Linked DNA regions of Homo sapiens: region 1 is linked to region 2. Evidence: fine-mapped QTL for protein levels in blood plasma. A gene starts in region 2. The other region holds a variant in brackets. All regions are shown on one strand. Distances are from middle to middle.

Region 1 (11,994 bases), 27 kb before region 2:
TAATTGTAATATATGTACGTTAATTGTATACATGTTACATACAATTTATATCTAATGTAATGTAATCAATTTATATCTAATGTATAAATATATATCGGTATATTATGTATAATATATGGATTATATATAATGTATAATATAATATATTATACATAACATATTATATGTATATTATATGTATACATATATTGTATGTATATGTATCATGTGTATATAAGTATACATATATTATACATACATACTTATGTATATTTAGATATGTTACATATGTATATGTGTATACATATATGTTAAAAATATATGTAATATGTAATATATTTATATTACATATACACACATGTATATGTAATTATACACTTGTATGTATATTAGAGTGCTTAACTCTCCACATCCTTGCCAAGTCTTTATGTTATATACTTTTTTCTTTTTGCCGATCTCCTAGTTGAACATTGACACTTCACTGAAATTTTATGTTCGTGTAGACAAGCATTCTTTCATGTTTGCCATATGTTTTTCATTTTCTGTTTATGTACCTTACATAATTTTTATACTGAATTTTGATTGATTTGTAAAAATTCTTATGTGTTAAGCACCTGAGAATATTCTCCATAAATCGAGAAATTTTGAAGTTATCTTTAACCCCTCTTTCATTTGGTTCCTGTTTTTTACCTACTAGTCAAGACTCTAATCTATCTCTGCCAGGGCCTTAAACAATTTCCCCATATTGCATGTTTTCTCGGTGTAAAATAACCACATGTTCTTAGTCAACTGATAATTTAAAAATACTACATTGGGCCGGGCGTGGTGGCTCACGCCTGTAATCACAGCACTTTGGGAGGCCGAGGCGGGTGGATCATGAGGTCAAGAGTTCAAGACCAGCCTGGCCAACAGGGTGAAACCCTGTCTCTACTAAGAATACAAAAATTAGCCGGGCATGGTGGCATGTGCCTGTAATCCCAACTACTCGGGAGGCTGAGGCAGGAGAATCGCTTGAACCCAGGAGGCGGAGGTTGCAATGAGCCGAGATCACGCCACTGCGCTCCAGCCTGGGTGACAGAGCAAGACTTTGTCTTGAAAAAATAAAAATAAAAAAAGATGCTATGTCAAAAAACTGCTATTAAAAATATGTAATGGCTCCCTACTTCATTCAATACCCATGAACCATCCAAATAAATTTATGTCTGGTTTTGGAAAAAATTATATCTTTTTTTTTTTTTGACGGAGTTTCACTCTTGTTGCCCAGGCTGGAGTGCAATGGTGCAATCTCGGCTCACTGCAACCTCCACCTCCCAGGTTCAAATGATTCTCCTGCCTCAGCCTCCCGAGTAGCTGAGATTACAGGCACGTGCCACCCATGCCTGTCTAATTTTGTATTTTTAGTAGAGATGGGGTTTCTCCATATTGGTCAGGCTAGTCTCGAACTCCCGACCTCAGGTGATTCTTCCTGCCTTGGCCTCCCAAAGTGCTGGGAATACAGGCGTGAGCCACCATGCCTGGCTGGAAAAAATTATTTCTTCAGAGCTGTCTAATCTTAATCTCCTATCTCATGGGAAATAAAATTATTTTACATTTCATAGTTAGATCATGTTTCCTTGAATTTTCCAGATATCTATGATGGGTTTTTTTGCTTGTTTGTTTTCGTGATTGTGTGTTTGTGTTTGTTATTGTTCAAAATACTGTTTCTTTTTGCTAGAATGCCCTTCCCACAAACTCTGATTGTCAACATGGTACACACTTTTTAGGTTACAAATTTTGTTCTTACTTTTCTTTTGGAAATTTATTTTATGATCACTGGCCATGATAATTTCTGCGAATTTTAAATTATTGGACCATCTAAAACTTGGCTGTACTTAAAATATTAGATAATGGCATTTTTGTCTATCCATCAATCACTCCAAGTTAAATCCTAGAAGTTATCTTTGAAACCTAGTTTTTCTTCATTCTAGCAAAATTGTTCAGATGATACTTCTGCCTTATACTAACTCAACACTTTCTGAGTTCAGTTCCCACACAATTTTAATGATATCCTGGGAGAGGGGCTCACACAGAGTAGTGGTTTGAAGCACTGTATAGGCCATAGTGGCATTGGGGTAATTTGTTACTACAGAAGGTGGAAGAAAGAGACATCGTCAGAAGGATGAATTTTCAAGACTATAACAAACTTCTGGTCTAGCCCTGTGAGGTATTGGGCAACAGTGAGAACTGTTGCAGGAACAGATCCTTATTACCATGGTGTCTCTTTTGGACACCAGAAAACAGAGGGGTTTATGGAAATTCCAGTTTTCTTCCACTTATTATAGAGTAAACTGACGTTCATGCTTTTCCCATAATTGGTGTTATTAATTCGCCCCATATCTTTGTATTTTGTCCCTTTTAGTTTGTCATGACCGATAAAAGAATCTCCTTTTAAGCCCTAAAAGTGAATCTCCAAATTTTCATAAGGAGTCTACGATGTTAATTTTTTTAATGCCACAAAGTGCACATGAATTTGTGGAAACTTAATATGTATATTGGCATTATTTTGTAGTAGAAAAAAATAGGGTGAAAAGAAGGGATAGTGAAGATTTAGAAAGTGGCTCAGTAACTCTTCCAGATTTTCTATCTCTCCTGCTAGAAATTCTGCCAACATGCAAGTAAAAAGCCATGTCAGTATTAGTCAACTAGGTGTTCTACTAGGGAAAGCTTTCAGGTTTACAAGTAGAACCTTATATAGTATTAAATGACAGTTTTCCTAGACCAGTGTTTTTCAAAGGGTCTCTGTGAGAAGTTCTCAGGTAGATGCTTATAACATGAAACAATTTAATGGAGTGCGAATAGGCCCCATAAATAGCTCTGGACTCTACAGAATTTCATAATGCACCTTATCACATGTAGGTCTTTAAAATTTTATTTATAGTTTTTAAATAAATTTTTCTCACTTTGCATAAAGCAAATTTTTCAAATGTTTCCTTGTATGTATTTACATTTGACAGGAAAGATTTTGACTGAATGAAACTTAAGTAAGGGTTATTCTATGAAATTAGTCCAAAAAAATTACACTATAAATATTAAATCTCAGATTCCAAGAGAATATTAAGAACTCACCTAGGCATCTTGGTGGTTCTGACCACTGTTTATTTCTGCATGTTACAGTTACAGAGCCCTGGAGTTTATAGAAGGACTGGCAACGGTACGTCACTGTTGACCCTGGAGGATATACTGATAATGGGAATGAGGTGGTATCTCCATTGTTAATAGATGGAGGGGGCCCACAATATGCAGTAGACTCTGGAAAACAGCATTTATTTGTTGAGACATTATGTTAGTTTAAACAAAATAATATAATGAAGCATCATGTATCATATCTTTAATATAAGGTGTCTGGAAATTCAAATAATTAATTACAGTATTTCTGTCATAAAGTCTGATTCAAAACATATTGTAGCTCCTTTCATGTTAAAGTGAAATTCATATAAAATACCGGGAATACTTTTTATTGAAGGCAGGAGAGACAGGTGAGTAAACTTCTGGTCTAGGTTCCTCCTCCACCCCTTAATATTCAATTGTCACTTAAAGAGGAAAGGTAAAAGTAAATAACTTTCTTACTGTTTCTAGTCTCAGGGTAATTATTACTTTATGCAAATAGCATATACCAACTAGTATATGATCATAAACTTGTAGTTTTACTGAAAATGAATTGCAGACACACTCTTCTGCATTTACTTTTTTGATACCAAATAATATTGTAGGCATCTTTCCCTATCAATAAATGTTTCAACTTCATGCTAATGAAGAGATTTTGGGGAAAACTAAAAAAAGTAACAACTTCATGCTAAGATTGGCTGGAATACGTTCAATTGTACTGACTGATCTCCCTTTATATATCACCAAGAACATAAATATGAAATCACTAAGTAATCCTATCCCAAATTGCTTGTACATCCTCTAGTTTCATTGAGTTACTGTCCTTGCTTTCTCAGATTGACTTCTTCATGATGACACTAGATTCTTTCACCTTTAAACTTGTAAAAGATCCTTCTTCATGAATTATCTCCTTTCTTCTGTAACATCAATGTCTCCCTTTCCACTTAATCATTCACCAACCTACAAACATGCTGAAAATGTCACAATTCAATAAGGTAAAATTTCACTTTCTCCATATCTTCTATCCGGTAACTGCCTCATTTCTCTATTCCCTTTTGAACACATTTACTTGTTTCTCATCCTCCATGATCTTACTTTATCACCCCACATTCTTTCTTGAACACACTGCAATTACTTACCCCCTATGGAAATATCTCTAGGCAAAATTACCAATGGTTTTTATTTAGATAAATAGATTGTTCAATTATCAGGCATCTTGTCCAGCTCTAAGCACTCTTTGCCATATCTGATGTTTTGTCAAGTAATATTTTGAAATATGTGCTTTTGAAATGCAGCCATGTAGCACTTAATGACAAGAAGATATTCTGAGAAATGTGTCATTAGGCTCTTTTTTCCTTGTGTGAGCATCATGGAGTGAGCCTACACAAACCTAGATAATGTTGCCTACTACACACCTAGGCTATATGGTGCAGCCTATTGCTCCTATTGTCCCCAAACCCCTGGCTGCAGACCAGTACCCTCTGTGGCCTCTTAGGAACCGGGCTGCATGACAGGAAGTGAGAGGCAGGCGAATGAGCATTACTGCCAGCATTACTACCTCCTGTCAGATCAACCAGGGCACTAGATTCTCATAGGATCTTGAACCCTATTGTGAACTGCACATGCAAGGGACCTAGGTTGCATGCTCCTTATGAGAATCTAATGCCTGATGATCTGAGGCACAGGAGTTTCATCCTGAAACCATCCCCCAACCTCCTCAGTCCATGGAAAAATTGTCTTCCACAAAACATGTCCCTGATGCTAAAAAGGTTGGGTATTGCTGTCCTAGGCCACAAACCTGTACAGCATGCTACCATACTGAATACTATAGGCCATTGTGACATGATGGTAAGTATTTGCATATCTAAACATATTTAAACATAGAAAAGGTACAGTAAAAATATGATAGAAAAGATTTTTAAGAAGATGTAGAAATTTCAAACTTGTTTCTTCTATGAACACTGTTGGAGATAACTCTTAGAGAAACTTTTTTAAATGACAGAATTGGTTACTTAGCAATTTAAGGCTTTGGGGTACAGTGCAACAGATTAGTCATAAGTTCTTGTTTCTTTCTTTAGATAAAGCAAAGGGGATTAATAACCTCTTTTTAAGTGAAATTACTTAGAAATAAACTACTAACCAACACAGCGTGGTAATGATTGCCATCGTCCATCTTTACATACAATTTCTTTTGCTTCTGGAAGTAGATAGTTTTCTTTACAGAGAACAGCTACTTTTTCTCCATCCTGATAATTCACTGTGGTTGTCATATTCTGAGCATTAGGTATCTGAGGTGGCGGTGGGCAGAATTGTTCCCTTTTTTCTACAAAATATTGGAATTAAATTATATGATTAATAAAAGTTAAGTAAAAACAGCTCAATAGGGTAGTGTTTCAGGAAAATGGAAGATTCAATGACACACACACACTATGTCTCTCTATCACTTTCTCTTTCTCTCTCCCTATATATAAATGTTATAATAACAAATATTTTTTGTGTCACTATAGTTTACAGTTTAAAAAGCGATTCTTTTTGTTATAACCATTAGTTTAAAATTTTTCAGATGCTCTCTTGTATCTCCTATTCATTATTCCTGTCAATTCTCTTGTATAATTTACAAATAAATTTCTTTAATTTTTTTCTAACTAACCCATATGATTCAAAAAGTTATGTACATTGAATTTAAACAATTTAAAAATAAAAATGACAACAATCAGAAATAACTATGACTTCCCCTAATAACTGAACCCTAGATCTCAATAAAGGATTTCCATGACTTGCATTTTCTTGTAAACATGAGAATGGCTGGTAATGAACATAACTGGAATGCCTCCGTTGGACTAGGAATTAAATTCTTTTTTGGTTGCTTGGCTTATTCTTAGGGAAAAGTTTTAAATGGTCAACTTGGATGCCAAAGCGTTTTCTAAACCTCCTGACCTGGGCTCATGCCCTTACAGTGATCTCCTTCATCTCATGTTTTTCCAGAGTGGTGGCTACTGTCTACTAACACTTCCCTTCAAAATGGTGGGAATTGAACAATGAGAACACATGGACACAGGAAGGGGAACATCACACACCGGGGGCTGTTGTGGGGTGGGGGGAGGGGGGAGGGATAGCATTAGGAGATATATCTAATGCTAAATGACGAGTTAATGGGTGCAGCACACCAACATGACACATGTATACATTTGTAACAAACCTGCACGTTGTGCACATGTACCCTAAAACTTAAAGTATAACAATAATTAAAAAAAACATATTCAGTGAAAAAAAAAATTATTGCATTGAAAGTGCTATTTTTTTTCCTCGCTATACTATTTTCATTTAAAAATCAAGACAGAAGAGTGCATATCTACTCTTTCCTGGTTTAGCTAGATTAAAAAATATAATAATTATATACAACAGATCTTTAATAAATTATTTGAACAGAACCTGAGGTCAGTATAAAATAAGCCAAAACATACATATTGTCTAAAATAGGAATTTTATACTGGATTTTTCCTTATTTTTTCAAGGTCAGAAAGGCAAAATAGTGCAAATCTAAACAGAAACTGTTCCTGTGGAAATCTAGATAGATATCTGGGACTGGGGCCCACTGATGCGTATTTTATGTTTTATATGACTCGTCCTACTTATTTACTGGTTTAAGAAAAGCGTGAACTTAAAGTACTTAGTTCCAGATGCATCTTATTCTAGTCAACCATTAACAAGACCAGTCTTTTGTGATCAGTGTTGTTTCAGTAATTAACTGCAAAAGAAAATAAAATTAGCCTGATATTATTATTGTTAGTATACATTTTTGATTAGCAAAGTTTGGTCATGAGTTTGAAGAAAGTCTATGAGAAGCACATGAAAAGAGGATATCAGGCACATTTGATAGATAGATGGGTCAGTTTTCAATATTATTTATTATTTAGAAGCTCTTCTACTTAATGTCTTATTACCTCTTTGTTTAGGTATTTTGTAAACATTTTGGAAACTAAACATTTTTGTTGTTTATGAATTTCTGTTTGGTGGTTTAAGTATTTTTATTTAAATACATAGTCACAAAGATGAATACTTATTGAGTATCATCAAGACTCTTTTGAATGAGCCTCAAGGCCTGTGCTGCCAATCTAGGGACTCAGCAGTTACCTGCTATGAGCCTCCTAGATGTCCCAGTGCCAGGAAATAGGGAAGCTGAAGGTGTCTGTAATCTCAAATGTACAAATAATAATGAGAATTTCATCAACAAAGTCCCAACTAAGTGAGTTAGATATTCAAATATCACACATATACTATTGTTTTTATATTTTAGGTAAAAAGAACATTACACATAATGATCTCAGTTGCCCACCTTACTTTCCTTTTAGAATTGGACATCTGTTTAGAAATTTCTGTCTAGTAAAGACAGAGTCTAGTTGAAACAGCACTGATATAAAAATCTGGAAACAAGTTCCAGTCTTGATTTTGACCAAATAACTTCTTGAAGCCATGTATTTCTGATGCATAAAATGAGAAATTTTATTATTTTTCTCAAGAACAAGCAAGGTGTGTAACAAATATTTGCCACCTAATAACGTTCTTACCTAATTTCCAGACTACTAGCTACCAGCTCTTCTCAAAACTTTAAATAAGGCTTCTTCCTTATTTTGATACCTATGACTCATAGTATTTTCCTTCTCTTTATGCTTGTAATTTATTTATTTAAAAAATTGAACTCATATTATTATTCCCTGTATTTCAGTTTTCATCTACTCTTTGGTTGTAGAAATGTTTATTTGTGTATGCACACCATTCTTGATTAGAGTCAACTCATTTAGACAGCTCTGCTTATTAATCTTTTCAAAACATTAGTTTCATATCTTGGATTAGTTGGAAATACAAGGTTCTATTTCATTTTCTTCTGCTTTTACTTTTATTATTTCCTTTTCCTCCTAATATCTGAATTCATTTTCCCCCTAGCTTTTTAGGATATACATATATATTATATATATACACACACACACACACACACACATATATATACACACATATATACATATATACATATATGTGTGTGTGTATATACATATGTGTGTGTATATATATGTGTGTGTGTGTATATATATATATATATATATATATATATATATATATATACTTTTTCCCAAAATAGATAAGTTTAAGACTATGAATGCCACATCATTCTAAATTTTGCTTAGGTTGCATCTCATAGGTTTTACTACGTATCCTTGTAATTATAACATAGTTCTTAATATTTTAAACATTACATCACTAGGTTATTTGGAAGTAAATTATTTGCTTACCCAAAATGAAAGGTAAGGAAGTGGATAACTTTTTATACACTTTTAATGTTATTTGTTTGTGGTTACAAAAAGTCATCTATAGGGCTTTAATATTTGAAGTTGTGAGAATTATTTTGGGCAGAATGACTGGCCAATTTAAGTAAACATTTCATGGACACATAAAAGGCTTCAAACTTCTTTCAACTATCAGAATATTTCTCTTCCTCAAATAGAAAAAATATATAATGAAATCAAATATTTTATAAACATAAAAATGTTCCAGTTGCTTTAAACAAATTGTAGTTATCTTATCTTTTTGAAATCCTTATGTATTTAAGTTTAAGAATATATTCCAGTATTTTTCCTCACAATTTCTAATGACATCACACTTTTTGCTATAAATTAGTATTTTATATCATTAATGTGTATTTTATATGATTTCTTTCAAACTATGACCTTGTGTGTAAACTCCTATCCTTCCTGTGGTTGCAAATTTCTTTATTTTGGAATCATTAGTGAATTATATTGGTACATAGAATGACTGGTTGCCAGTTACTTTCACTAAGCACTTTGAAGAGATTACCTTATTTTCTTCGGCTTTTGACGTTGCTGATGAGAAGTCTGCAGTCTATCTTCTCTCTTTTATTGTCATTCCTTTATAAGCACTTTGTTTTCTCTAGTTCTGGTTTATTTTAATCTAATATGGTGCCCCATTTTATAATTACTTGTAATTTATAATCCTATTACTCAAAGTAAATGATTTGAATATAAGCCTTCGAGGAATGTGAGACTTTTTCTTAGGGAAATAATTGATTACTCAAATATATTTTCTTTCTCAGCCTACTTTTTACTCAGCCTACTGTCTGGTCCAGAATTGGCAATATCTGTTAGTTTTGTTTCACAGTGCATAATTGGGGTTTTAATTGTTTCTTAATGTCATTGAAGATTAAGTTTTGTTCTTTTTTTACAGTTCTTTATTTCTTTTTTTCTTTCAAGGTTTTGTGAGACTGTAATAGAGTAAAAACAGCTTTACTCTCTCATCTTTACCAGAAAGCCAAGGCTTTTAAAGAATAACATTTGTCTGGAAAGAGTATTATAACTAGTTTCTACTTTACTATTAGCATAGAAATTATATGCCACAATAAATATTTAATTTAAAAACATTCTAATTTCAAAATAATTTTTCTTGTAAAGAAGCAACAAGATCAACAAAATGTTTTAAACAAATCTTACCTGTGCAGTCTACTTCAGGATTCCATTTCCCGTTTATACAGACTGAGTGCCTGTATCTGAAGATGTCTGAACATCTGTAA[C/T]GTATTCTAGAATTATGATTAAATTCTTTCCCAGATAGCTTGAGTAATGTTTTTATATTAACTCCTGCTATTTTGCACCTCTTAAGTTGGTGTGTTGCTATAAAAAATAATATTAAATAGAAACTAAACAATTATGTCAATAAAATATCTGCAATATTAATAGCATAATTATGTTTGATGCTTTTAAGCAACATCACAAAACTTATTCTTAATCTCATTGCACAAAATAGACAATGCTGTTGGAAAAAGAAAAAATAAAACAAAAAACTGTATCCCATCTTTGAATGACAGGAAAGTAGGTCAGAAAGTTTTCTGGGAAATGAAAGTGCAAGATAGGTTTTCCTAGTGGGAGTTTTGACTGAAAGATAGTTCTTAGGAAGCTACAAATGAATTGTTAGAGGCTCTGAAAATGTACACATGTATGATTGTTTTGCACTAAACTATCTTAAATATCTTCAAAACATTTAAATAATAAAAAGAGGCAATACATGGGTAAGTCTGCAGGAAGCAAAGCATCAGTAAGAGATAGATCTGGGTCCCCCTTGAGGTTCAATGACTCACATTTCAAAAGCTCAGCAAAAACTCTGACTCAGTAAGTCAGAGTATTCTCAGGGGAAGAACTCACTGATAATAACACAACTGAGCTTCAGAACATAAATTCCTACTAAGCCTCTTGCTTGTCTAAGTAGTTCTCATTGTTACATTTTTTTCCCGTTTCCCATAAACATGTAGATAGTTATGGAGCCTTTTCCTTAGTGTGTAAAAGGATGGGATAATGAGACATGGAGTGTGCTCTGCTACTTCTATGCTTACAGGTGTTTTCTGCAATAGTTTCTATTTTTAATTCACCCCATATGGGGCTAGAGGTTGATATTTATGTACTCCTTGCATAAAAGTTGATGACCATGAAGATATATGATCTACATCTTCCCATAACAGCGTTCTGGCTCCTGGTAGTGGAAAACATTCCCTCACAATAGGTCATCACGGATGGCCACTGACCAGGTATTTGCTGGGACAACGGCTGGCAACACCTACAGTAATTTTTCCCAGCAATGAGTGGGCCAGTTGATTATCCAAAAGTCCAGGAGATGGAGAGAGAGGCGGTTCTGTTTCAGTTTCTGTAAGGAGGAGAACAGCGGCGGAAAGTCTGCTTGTCTTTAAAGTTCAAAATTAGAGGCTTTAATGTATTGAGGTTGCTAGAGATAGGACAAAAGAGGCCAGGATCTGAGGGTGTCGGGAAAAAAAATACCTGCAAGTACTTAAGTGTCAAGGCTGGAAGTCCTGAGGCTGCAAGGTAAGAGTAGAGCACACAGGCTGATAGACTACTACTACTTACTACTTACTACTTACTTACTACTTACTACTTACTACTTCTGTGGAGGAAACCGACAAACTAAGTAGATAATTAGGAATAGAAATAAGAGAATTATGGGACCAGAAAGAGCAAGGATCATGCCTAGTTCCTGGGTCCTAGTCCCCTACTCTTCTTCTATGAAGGGATTCCAAACACTCTGGAATTTAATAGAACTCAAGCTACATTGCTATTTTTTAGGTTGTTCTATCTGGAACATGCTGAGGTAAAGACTAAGTTAAAGCAATGAAATAAAAGAAATTAAATCGCCATCATTTGTAGAAATACAATATCCCAATTAAATATTAGAACTAATACAGAAATTCAACAAGGTTACTGGAAACAAAAATAATGTATGCAATTAAATCACATTCTTGCATATAGAAAGTATAACTATTCAAGCATATACATTAATAAAAGTTTCCATTCATCATGCCAGAAAAATCCCAAATAAATTGGTGAAGAAATCTGTGCAGTAATAACAAGAAATTCATAAAACCATATGGTAAAGTTTAATGTAAGACCTGAATAAATGGATTGACATATTTTACTTGTGGAAGGAAGAGTCAGTATCAATAAAATTGTAATTCTAGCCAGATTTATACACTTTATACAATCCCAATCAAAATGATAAATAATCAAATATAAAGTTTAGGAATGTTTTCTCACCAACACACATAGGAAGCTCTGTCCATATTCCATTAATACAGGTAATCATGTTATTTCCAATCATTGCATATTCATTTCTGCAATTCACCTCGACTGAAACTCCATGTTGATAGGGAGGGACAGACGGCTGAACATAACCGTACTCGAGTTCAGGTATGTATCCACATGTTTTCACTTGTTCTAAGAAAATGTAATAAAATGAGTGCTTACTCTGAAAATATTTTAAATCTGTTTACATGTGTATTTATATATAAGTGCAAAGTAATAG
Region 2 (12,941 bases):
TACTCTTGATATTGTACATTCTATGGATTTGATGTACTTTATCTTTGAATGCTGTTTTAGCTCGAGATATTTCCTCAATATAGTGTGCTCATTTTTTAGCTCAAGATATTTCCTGAATATAGCATTGCTGCATAAGAAATTGTTTTGTTTTTCACCTTATTTAGAAAAAGCATGCAGAAATTCAGCTGACAAATCAAGGGAAATTTCTCTTTTTTAACTACCTAGAAGTAATATTTAATGTTGCACAATATTTGAAATAATTCTTGTGGTATTTAACCTTGTGAAACCTTAAATTTATTACCTAACTGTTTAAAAATTGACATTAGATAGTTTTGGAGAAGATACTGAGGGAAAGACTCCCTCGTGTCTTGATAGTATTAACCTATCATAACTCCTTTTAAATATCATTTACTTTTTGAAAATTGCAAAATTATAGTACTTGATTTTCATGCATATGTACTTACATATTCTTCGCTATCCAGAATAACTTAGTTCTCACCATCCAGTTGTATTCTACCTATCCTTTAGAACTTGCTCTACAACATTCATCGTATAACCATTGTGCACATCCGCAATGGTGCTAGGAGTGTTATCGTCCTTTGGCAAGCCTGCCGTTACACAACAACCCACTCCAAAAGCAGAAAATAATTTTCCTTGTCTCGACATTCTGATAGAATACTGTGAATATATTTCTTCTGGGATACACACACACACACACACACACACACACACACACACACGTATATATACAGACATACAGTCATTTACCACATAATGACGTTTTGGTCAATGACTGATCACTTATATCACAGTGGTCCCATAAGATTATAATGTAGCTGAAAAATTCCTATCAACTGATGACCACCACAACATCATAATCCAATGTATTACTCACATGTTTGTGGCAGTGCTGGTATAAACAAACTTACAGCATTGCCAGTCATATAAACAATAGCACACACAATTATGTATAGTACACAATACTTGATAATGATAATAAATGACCATGGTACTGGTTAATGTATTTAATGTACTATAGTTGTTATCATTATTTTATAGTTCACTTCTTCTACTTATTAAAAAAAAATAACTGTAAAACATCCTCAGGCGGGTCCTTCAGGAACTATTCCAGAAGAAGGCTTTGTTATCATAGGAGAGGACAGCTCCATGCATGTTACTGCCCTAAAGACCTTCTAGTGGAACAAGAGTGAGGAGGAAGACAGTGATACTGATGATCCTGACCCTCCGTAGGCCGAGGTTAATGTGTGTGTTTGTGTCTGCTTTTAACAAAAAGGTGTAGAAGGTAAATAAATAAATAATTTAAAAGATAAAAATCTTACAGAATAAGGATAGAAAGAAAAAATATTTTGTACATCTATACAAGGTGTGTTTTAAGCTAAAACAAAAGAGTTACAAGTTAAAAGATTTTCAGTTGATAAAGTAGAAAGCTTATCATAAATTAATTTATTATTGAAGAAAAGTTTTAAAAATAAATTTAGTCTATCCTGGGTGCACCAGAAGCTCAGTAATTAGCACTAAAGAACTTATCCATGTAACCAAAAACCACCTGCTCCCCCCAAAATATTGAAATAAATATATAAATAAAATAAATTTACCTAGCTCAAGTATTCAGTGTTCATGAAGTTTACAGTAGTGTATGGTAATGTGCTAAGCCTTCATATTTGCACACCACTCACTCAGTGACTTACCCAGAACAACTTTCAGTCCTGCAAACCCTATTGACGGTAAGAGCCCTATACAAGTCTGCCATTCTTAATATTTTATATTGTATTTTTATTGTACCTTTTATATGTTTAGGTAAACACATTCTTACATTTGTGCTACAGTTGCCCACAGTATTCAGTACAGTAACATGCTGTACAGGTTTGCAGTCTAGGAGTGACAGGCCGTATAGCTTAGTTAGGTAGTAGGCTATACAATCTAGGTTTGTGTAAGTACACTCTATGATGTTTGCAGGAGGACGAAATTGCCTATAGACACACTTCTCAGAACGTTTTCCTATCATTAAGTGATGTATGAGTGTACACACACACACACACACACACACACACACAGACAATTACCTATATATAAAACCTTGCAATTTATTTGCCTATTTACATTTTGCTTTTCTTTTAGGACACTCTAAGTAGTAGTGAGGGGTGGGTGGCGTTGTCATATTCTTTCCAGCTTCTTTGCTACAGCATGAAGCACAATATATTGCTTGATTCATGTTTTGCTACTGGAAGCATGCAGTTTTCTATTTGTACAAAAGTGTTGCTTTCGTCTGTTATTTCTGCTGTTTGGCCAGTTTCTAAATAGACACCAAAACAAAAGTGTAATGCACACTTACAGGTCATTTAACACCTAGACAACTTTTAATAGAATTTCACTAAAGTTTATCCTGGGACTGGACTGAAGCTTGAAAGTTTTGTGGGGTTAGGAATTGTCAAAATTCTACATATTATCCTCATAATTTTCACTTATCTTCCTCTGCTTCCACCCCCCTTTAGAAATCCTTGTGTAATGCCATTTGTAACAGATGTTTAAGCCACTTAATAAATATCATAAACACAGACTTAAGAAAAATCAAATACACTCATGCAATCGCACTCTTGTGATTATAGCTCAGTACTAAAAGTGAAAACAAAATAAAATGAATTTTAGGCCCATAGAAATAATGTTTTGCAACATTTGTAAGGGCATATCTTAAAAAGAAAGCATTTTATGGTTCATATTTTTCTCTTATGTCAGGACTGAGAAGAAAGTGTTCAAAAAATTTAAAGATCTGTAAACATTAGAAAGCAGTAAAGCAGTAAAATAAAAACTTTCTGGAAATCAAAGAGTATATAGCACAATGATTGAAACTTCACGTACACACATAGTTTAATCAGTATCCTAGACCTTGTTAGAGATTTTGTTTGCAATCCTTTTGATATAGTGGCTTTAATTTCCACATGAAATAAAATGGGATAGTTTATAATGTTATAAGAATCAGTTTATAGTATTAATAAAGAAGTGATATATTATTTCACTTTTGAAATTTGTGGAAGAGCTCAGAAGAAACAATTTTTTGGCAGTTCACTGGTTTATATATAAAAATAATATTTTCTATTGTTTCATTAAAATATATTTCCCTGTTGAATGATAATTAGGCTGAAATGAGAATTCCTTCATTTTAATAACATTTAAAATGTAAATTATCAAATCTATGAAAATAAAATTCTCAAAACATAATGAAGGTGGCCAAATCTTTTGGGGTTGATTTTTCTAGTCAGTGGCATTGCAGAGTTTATGCAGAATTACACTAATATTTCACCTTGTCATCTTTATTATAGCAGATTTTCTCTCCTTTGATTTCTCTTTACATTATCTATTTGGTGACCATTTACCCTTAGCAAACTAGAGAACGGAGAGAATTAATTTCATTCAATTTTCCTGCTAATTGCATGTTGGAAAATATTTCCAGAAAATAGATGAATATTGTGATACCCCTTCAAATTATCCTCAGCTATTTATTCATTTAAAAATATTTGTATGCATACACACACACAATCAATAAATACATTTGAAAAGGAACTAAAATATTCGGATCTGTTTTCAACTTACCTTCTCCCCCAACAGTGGATACCCATGAGATTAGGATTACACTGAATAAGAGCAACATGCTTGGTAGTCTCAATCGTATATAACTAAAAATACTCCAGTGATGGTGGTGTTGCTTTAAATCTGCTTTCATTAACAGTTACAAGCATGACTTTGAATTTCAATGTACTAAGGGGAAGCTAGTTTAGTAAAGCCCTTTGTGGAAAACATCAAAGTTCATGGAGGGTTGTGTGAAATAAGCAAATAGTATCTAATCAGTGTCTTCACAATAATATTCTCAGCTCGTTATGTAATATTTATTTAAGCAAAATAACTGCTGTTCAATTTCCTTGTTGTAGTCACCGAGTCTCTGAGTTTGGAACAATCAGAAATGGACTGTTTAGAGGAGAGAGGAAGCTCCCCACCGCCGGCCCCCTGGGTTTTTTTTTTTTTTCTAGCCAAGGGTTCAGCTGTTTCAAAAGGCAAGCAAGTGCAAGTCATCAGTCCTCATCTTAATACAACAATATCACTTTTGTAGTTGTAAATTCCCTTTTAAAACTGGCACTAAGAATTAGGTACCTTCTTAACAGTTTTAATATTTCATAAACTATAAAAGGTCTAATCAAGAATTATTTTTGCTGGCCGGGCGCAATGGCTCAAGCCTGTAATCCCAGCACTTTGGGAGGCCGAGGCGGGTGGATCACAAGGTCAGGAGATCGAGACCATCCTGGCTAACACGGTGAAACCCGTCTCTACTGAAAAATACAAAAAAAATTTAGCCAGGCGTGGTGGCGGGCGCCTGTAGTCCCAGCTACTCGGGAGGCTGAGGCAGGAGAATGGCGTAAAACCGGGAGGCAGAGCTTGCCGTGAGTGGAGATCGCGCCACTGCACTCCAGCCTGGGCGACAGAGCGAGACTCTGTCTCAAAAAAAAAAAAAAAAAAAAAAAGAATAATTTTTGCCAAGTAACGTTTCCTGAAATGTTTGAAGAACAGAATTATAATTCAAAATCATTTTGTTCAGGTGGGACTTCGAGAATGGCTATGTGAGGGTCTTGGTATATTCACTCCCAACCAAAAGGCAGCAATAAAACTGGATAAAAATTTAAAAGTAACCATTGGTTGTCTCTGGAAATTGGCCAAACAGCATAATGTTGGGAAATATTTTTTCCAGAAAGTCTCCATAAAATTCAGTAAAAGAGAGCGGATGCTTTCATCCACCTCTGTCTCGCAGCCCAATTCCGTGGCTCAGAAGTTGAACCCTGGATGGGCAGGCAGGCTATGTGGACTGGAAGCTCTGCTCCCCTGCTGGAGAAGAGTGACTTTATAGCTTGGAAAGGTCCATGCCCGAGGATCCTATTGAATACAAAGAGATTACAGTGGGAAACAATCAGAGAAGACTAGAGGATACTAGCTGAAGCAAGCAACAAAGTGCCCAGCCTGAGAGAAATTTAACATTTAATGGGGAAATTTACAGAAACAGCCTAATGATCTCACTAAGAGGAAACTTACTTATGGTGGTTCAGAAGTCAATGGGAATGCACATAGCTATGTCCAATCAAGAAACCAGAGAAGTCCCTGTGAGCTATTAGTAGTCTCCACTATTGATTCTAGTCTATCTAAACCTTGTCATTTCCAATTACTACACTACCTAAAGTATCTAAATATTAAGCATCACACTCTAGACCATTTCAACAATCTTTTTAGCTCACTTACTCTACTAAATTTGTTCCAAACATTCAATGACCCTGACACTTTTTCACTATTCTCTTCCCTTCATTTTCTCTCTTCCCACCACATCTAAATTAGATTCCATGGCTCATCACTGTCAGTCAGTCCCTTGCACACACTCTCCTGCCCATTCGTTCCTTTCTATCTGTAATCCAAGTCTTAGAAAACCTCAATCCTTTGCAAATAAATTCTCTACCTGCCCTGTGCCTGAATTGAAGCAGCAGAGTGTGTCTACAAGAAAAACAAAGGCAACTGTGCTGACTTGCCTTGCTTTAAATTAATGAACACGGTCCTAAATAATTTCCACACTGCTTTTCCCCTCTCCTGTTTTCATTATCTCCCTCCTTAACCACCAATCCTCACTTTGTGCTTTGCTAATGACTTCATTTATTTTTTCATCTAGATATAGAATCAATCAGAAGAAAACTACCTGCTGTTCACACGCATCCTTTTCTGCATTGTCTCTTGCTTCACTGGATGTTGATCTTTACTCCTATCTTGTTATGGTCTCTACCAGATTTGATCCCATCTTTTCTGTGCAAGGATTTTGCTCTTTCAATTATTCCTTCTCACCTGTATCATTAATTTCTCCATTTTCCAAATTATTTCCACCAATATGCAAACATACCAAACATCTTTCATCATGAAGAGCAACAACAAAAGCTCAAAAATTGTTCATAGAACCCAAATCTCTTTCTAGTAATCTAATTCACTTCTCATTTTATAATACGATGACTCCAATGTTATCTACAATCTCTACTTTAATTCATTTTTTCATTCCCAACACTACGCTTAAACCCCTCTTGTAACAGTCACCAATGCCTTCTTCAATCTAATCAAATCCATTGGTCAAAACTGAATACTCAGAAAAATTTCATGACTTTCCCCTTCCATTTGGAAATACCTGCTTCACATGGTCTATGGAACACCACATTCTCCTGGTTTCTCTTCTGTCTCAAAGGCTTCACCATCTCAGTCTTTTGTTGGCTTCTTCTAATCTCTGTGACCTTTAAACATTGGTTTGTCTGAATCCAGGGGATGTTATTTATTTGTAAGCACAGAGTTAATTTTCACAGAGCTAGTGCCGATTTTTAGTTGAATTAACACTATCTTCTCTTGTCTATTTTTTTTGAAGCCCAGTACTCAACAATTATTCTCCTTTTTATTTGCTGAATATTTCTCCTAATTCAGAAACTTAGATTGCCCTTTTTTGTTTGTTTCTTGTTCTGAGTAATTTCAGGAGATTATGCCCTCCTGCAAACATTAGCAACAAATAAAAGGAGAAGGAAACTATACTTGATAAGAAATAAAAGGGCAGTTTAGAAAATAACTTTGTCTTCAATTTTGTGGCCAATTTTATTTTGAAAGATGCTCACTCCACTGTGTCTCATCTCACTTGTTCTTCTGCCATGTGATTTTGCCATGATCCTATCAAGATTTGGAATCACATTTCCCTCATTTTGAAAATCTGTACTTTTTAGTGGCATGCTTTTGTTGATACAATACAGTGGTAGTGACTCTGCTAGATATTAGAGAGTTATGGGTTTATATTTTGGAAGACTATCTCTCTGACACTATCTTGGAAGCCTTTTGCCATTTGGCAAGAAGTTCAATCTGTATGCAGAAGCCATATGTAAATCTTCTGGTTGATAGTCCCAGTTGGCCCAGGCAATAGCCCAGGTGTCATACAGGTGAGTGACATTTGCAGATTCCAAATCTCAGTTATTTGAGTCCTAACCCATTTAAATCTTTTCACCTGAGGCTCAAATATTGTGGAACAGTTATAAGTCATCACCTCAGTGCCCTGCGTCAATTCCTAACAGTATCTTTAAGTATAATAAAATGATTGCTGTTTTATGCCAATAAGTTTCTTACACAGCATTATAAATCTAGGAAACTGGGACCTCTTTTTTTTGTGGATTCCAGGTTTAGTGCAGGGAAAGTAAATTAAGTCTGAAACTGTTTGTTGTTACAAAAAATATGAAAGGGTTAAAAGGCAAATTATAGCATTCAAATACATATGAAACTGGCTTGTAGAAGTTATTACTGATAAAATTTGAGATAGATTTAAGTATCTCAAAGAAAAATTGCTGAAATTGGTTATAACTCTTGAATATTGAAAATTCTCTTCCCCAAAAGTGCTATAAAAGTAAAACATCCCAGCCTATATAATCCAAATAATTTTTGTTTTGAAATAATCTTAGATTCATATAATAAGTCATAAAAATAGTACAGAGAATGCCCATGTACCCTTTACCCAGTTTCCTCCAATAACTATAACTTCCTGCATCTCTTATATCTATAGTACAATAATTGAGACCAGGAAATTGACATTAGTGCTCTACTACTAACTCAGCTACCAACCTTACTGAATTTCATGGTCTCTCCCATGAACTTGCGTTTGTGTTTGTGTGGTATATTAATTTTGCAACATGTATGCACTCATGTAACCATCACCACAATCAGTCATATGTAGAACTACTCAGTCGTATACAGAACTATTCTATCACCTCCAGAAAACTCCCGTGTGCTGTCCTTTTATGGTCCCCACATTCCCCCACCCCTCATTGCTAGTCATCACTAGTATGTTCTACATAACTGTAATTTAGTCATTTTGAGTGTTATATAAATTGGATTATACAGTAAGTCAACTTTTTGATTTGGATATTTTTCACACAGGGTAATGTCCTTGAAATGTAGCCAAGCTGTTGTATTATAAGTAATTCATTTCTTTTAATTGCTGTGAAGTACTCCATTGTATGGATGTAACATGTTTGTTTATTCTTTCGCTCATCTGAGGACATTTGAGTTGCTTCTACTTTTTGGCTATTACACATAAAGCTATGATGGACAATTTTGTGCAATGTTTTACTTGAACAGCAAACTTGTTCTCGAAGGGTCATATGTTTAGTATTTTAAGGTTGTGAACCATATGGCCTCTGCCACAACTACCTAACTTTGTAGTTATAGAGCCAAAATAATGATAGACAATACATAAATAAAAAGGTGTGGCTCACATCCAATACATCTTTATTAAGAAAATAGATAGCTAGTTCCTAAGATATAGTTTGCCATCTCCTGCCCTATGGTAAACAGTCAGGGGTGAGATTACTGGGTTTTATGAAAAGTGCTATTGAACTCTATAAGAAATTGTCTGTTTTCCATAGTGGCTATGACATTTTACATTTCCACAAGCAATGTATGAGAGATCCATTGTATTGCATTTTCACTTGCACTTACTATTACCAATGTGTTTCATTTAATTTTTTTAAAGCATTTTATTAGATACATAGTAAATCTCATTGTGGTTTTAATGTGTATTCCCTAATGGTTAATGACATTGAATAACTTTTCACATGTTTATTTTCCATCTGAATATCTTTTTTGTTAGATCTGTTCAAGGCTTTGGCACCTTTATTGATTGGATTGTTTTACCTGTGTTTAGAGCATTCTTTATATATTCCATGTATAAGTCCTCTGTCAGATACGTTATTTGCAAATATTTTTTGCTAATAAGTAGCTTATCTTTTCACTCTCATAGAATGTCTTTCATGGATAAAAAGTGTTTAATGTTGATAAAGTATTATTATTATTTCACTCTTTTATGGGTCATCCTTTAGGTGTCCTGTTTAAGAACAATTCCATCAAACCCCAGATCACAAAGATTTTCTCTTCCTCTACAAGTTTGATTGTTTTACATTATGCATTTAGATATAGGAACCATTTGGAGTTAGGTTTTGTAAAATATGTGAGATTAAATCAAAATTAATTTTTTGGCTAAGAAAGTGCTAGTCCCCAACACAATTTGTTGAAAAGAAACTTTTCTCAACCACATGCCACACATTCTCACTTCTAAGTATGAGCTCAATCATGAGAAAACATGAACACATAGAGGGGAACAACACACACTGGGGCCTAATGGACGGTGAAGGGTGGGAAGAGGGAAAGGAATAGGAAAAATAACTAATGGCTACCAGGCTGAATACCTGGGTGACAGAATACTCTGTAAAACTAACTCCCATGAAACAAGTTTACCTATGTAACAAACCTGCACAGGTAGCCCTGAACTAAAAAAAAAAAAAGGATCTTTTCTGTATTGAATTATTTGTGCATCTTTGTTAAAAGTTACTTGAGCATATTTGTGTGGGTCTATTTCTGGATTCTGTATCTGTTCTATTGATTTATGTCTATCCCTCCATCAATACTATATTGTTTCTAATATGGTAGCTATATTTTGAGGCCTCAAATTTGATTTTTGTGATCCTTTCAACTTTATTATTTTAAAAAAATGTTTCAGCCATTCTAACTCCTGTGCATTTTAATATAAATTTAGTATGGAATGATCTATATTTACAAAGAATTCTGTTGAAATTTTAATAAGTAATTATGTTAAGCCTATAGTACAATTTGAGAAAAATTTATTTATTTATCCTGTTGAGTATTCTAGCCCAAGAACATGGTATTGCTCTCTATTTAATTCTTCCTTGATTTTCCTAGGGAATACTTCTTTTCATATTGACAAAAATACATATTAGAAAATAGGTATCAACTATCAAGGCTTTTGTCCATTTTAGAAATAATACAAATATTTCTATGAATAGAAATATTATATTTATTTGTTTTTTCTCCCAAGAGAAATTTGTGGATATGCAGAAATAAAACAAGGACAATTATATGACCTTTTCTGGATTCTGTATCTGTTCTATTGATTTATGTCTATCCCTCCATCAATACTATACTGTTTTTAATATGGTAGCTATATTTTGAGGCCTCAAATTTGATTTGTGTGATCCTTTCAACTTTATTATTTTAAAAAAATGTTTCAGCCATTCTAACTCCTGTGCATTTTAATATAAATTTAGTATGAAATGATCTATATTTACAAAGAATTCTCTTGAAATTTTAATAAGTAATTATGTTAAGCCTATAGTACAATTTGAGAAAAATTTATTTATTTATCCTGTTGAGTATTCTAGCCCAAGAACATGGTATTGCTCTCTACTTAATTCTTCCTTGATTTTCCTAGGAAATACTTATTTTCATATTGACAAAAATACATATTAGAAAATAGGTATCAAGTATCAAGGCTTTTGTCCATTTTAGAAATAATTCAAATATTTCTATGAATAGAAATATTATATTTGGGGAATAGATAGTCCCCAAAGCTTTACGTCTTTCCTTCTCACTTGATTTTCATAAAATGCTCCCAAATAATATAAGGGCTACATCTGTCATCTCTTCAGGCTCTTTTAGACCTTGCCCCTGTCAAGACACAGATCCCTTTTGAGGCATCCCTCTCTACTCACCGAATGATTTATGCAGATAATGATCAGGGCATTTACTTACTAAGACACTTCACTGTTGATACCCATTCTTTCTCTGTGCATGTTACGTGAGTCTATAGGGGATTTGAAGGAGATACAAAGCTATATTCACAGGAGTAATAGAACAGTTTTTTTTTCTTGTGAACTGGTAAAGTTGGTTTATATTTATCTTGGTCATATAATTGTCCTTGTTTTATTTCTGCATATCTACAAATTTCTCTTGGGAGAAAAAAACAAATAAATATCCTGAATTAAAGAATATACAGCTTATATTTCAATGATGTCATTGATGCATTTTATTCATTTAACTCATTACCACTTGTCGTTAGTGATTAAGAAACAGAGAACTATATGTAACCCAGAATGCAAAAGTATTTAATAACATCATTGTTAAAGAAGACACTATAACATTTTTGGAGTCAAATCAAGTGTAAACTCTTTTGAAGTGTCTCCAAGAAGATAACAATACAGAACAACACAAAAATCAAGGTAGAGGATCTGAGTAGCTTTATACTGCAGTCCTCTCATGCCTAAGATTTACGTAGGTTGGGATAAGAGTACAGATTTTAAATCTCTATTCAATTCCGTTCTCCTTTCTTTTCTTTGCCTGTCATGAAATCTTTTAGCAGAAAGCCGAGCCGTGTCTGCCCCTGCTAGTTCAGCTAAGATACTGCCTGGGTAAGTTTTTTATACTATCATTTTTCTGACTGTAAACATAATGTACTTTCAGTGAAGAAAATTTAGAATGAACAAAGAATCATAAAACAAGGAAGCAAAAGCTCACCCCAAATAAAAAATCCGAGATATAATTACAACTGGATTATGATGAATAGAAAATAGGTATGTACATGTGTATACATTTGTATATATTGTGATGGCAAAATATGAAAATAATTTAGAATTGGCATTGTCTCTAGAAAAATAGATCTGTGTGGATATAACACATCATATAAGCAACATATAAATAAATATTAATATATAAATAAAAATGTAATATATGGTAAAGAACTATAAATAATTTGTATGTCAACACATAGTTTATGTACATTACTCCACAATTAATGTTTATCACAGTTTTAAGATATCATTTGATAGGATGAAAATTTTTTTCAACAAGTTTCCTAATAAAAAGACCAAATCTGAAATATTTACTTAAGTAAAGAGAAAAACCAATCTTCAAAGACCTGAAGCTAAATCCTATTAAACTTTTAATTAGGCCAGTTGCAGTGGCTCACACCTGTAATCTCAATACTTTGGGAGGCCGAAGTGGGCAGAATACTTGAGGCCAGGAGTCTGAGACCAGCTTGGTTAACATGGCGAGTCCCTGTCTCTACTAAAAATATAAAAAAATTAGCCGGGACTGGTAGCGCACTCCTGTAATCCCATCTACTTAGGATGCTGAGGCACGAGAATCTCTTGGACCCGGGAGGTGGAGGCTGCAGTGAACCAAGACCGTGCCGCTGCACTCCAGCCTGGGCAACAGAATGAGGCCCTGTCTAAAAGAAAAAACCTTCAGAAACTTTTAATTAATTAATTTATGCACATATTAAGTACAAACATTAAATTATTTCTAAAATTCTATATAATGTTACTAACTACAACACATTTTATTTTCATCTTTTTTGTTTGTTTTGTGTTCTCTGTTTTTGGTGCCCATTGTGTTTCATCAGTTAATAAGGTTTTTTTTGTTTTGTTTTTTGTTTTTTGTTTTTTTTGAGGCAGAGTCTTGTTCTGTTGCCCAAGCTGAAGTGCAGTAGTGGTGTGATTTTGGCTCACTGCAGCCTCTGCCTCCAAGGTTCAAGTGATTCTCCTGCCTCAGCCTCCTGAGTAGCTGGGACTACAGGCACGCACCACCATGCCCAGCTAATTTTTGTATTTTTAGTAGAGACACGGCTTCACCATGTTGGCCAGGATGGTCTTGATCTCCTGACCTCATGATCTGCCTGCCTCAGCCTCCCCAAGTGCTGGGTTTGACTTGAGCCACCGCAGTACAGACTTGTACTTGTACTTGAGCCACCTCAAGTACAGACTTGAGCCATCGCAGGTGATAAGTTTTAATGGATAATTATTTGACTTTTAATCTCCTAACTGAGCAAAGAAATGAGAACAGGTTGTGATGTCCTACTCCCACTATTTTCCTCCAGGGATCACGTAAGATGATCATGCAAGAGTTTACTTAATACATAGCCTTCTCCCTTGCTGAGAGCTCCAGGGTTCTCCAGCTGTACTCCATAAAGTCCCTGCCATACATCCCATCTTTACTTACAGAACATATTCTTCCTACCGACACTCAGGACCAAACCA

Evidence for each region. A credible set is the group of variants that fine-mapping cannot tell apart. PIP is the chance, under the fine-mapping model, that this variant and not a neighbour inherited with it causes the effect. Protein levels are from the aptamer-based SomaScan assay of Sun 2018.
Region 1: its variant is the best candidate, but not a certain one, in a credible set for the plasma level of the CFHR5 protein (Sun 2018, PIP 0.76). The variant lies in the coding sequence of CFHR5. If it changes the protein, the assay may bind it differently, which can mimic a change of level.

What each region holds. Positions count from the first base shown.
Region 1 is chr1:196,995,934-197,007,927 of GRCh38, reverse strand. It overlaps CFHR5 (complement factor H related 5), which reads right to left. Exons shown (of 10, transcript NM_030787.4): 6 at 11,727-11,906; 7 at 9,624-9,800; 8 at 5,264-5,446; 9 at 3,085-3,267. Among named protein-coding and RNA genes, the nearest start is that of CFHR5, 24 kb to the right of the region's middle. The variant C/T (reference allele first, on the strand shown) is at 9,704.
Region 2 is chr1:196,968,391-196,981,331 of GRCh38, reverse strand. It overlaps CFHR5 (complement factor H related 5), which reads right to left and starts at 3,776. Exons shown (of 10, transcript NM_030787.4): 1 at 3,610-3,776. The coding sequence starts at 3,667.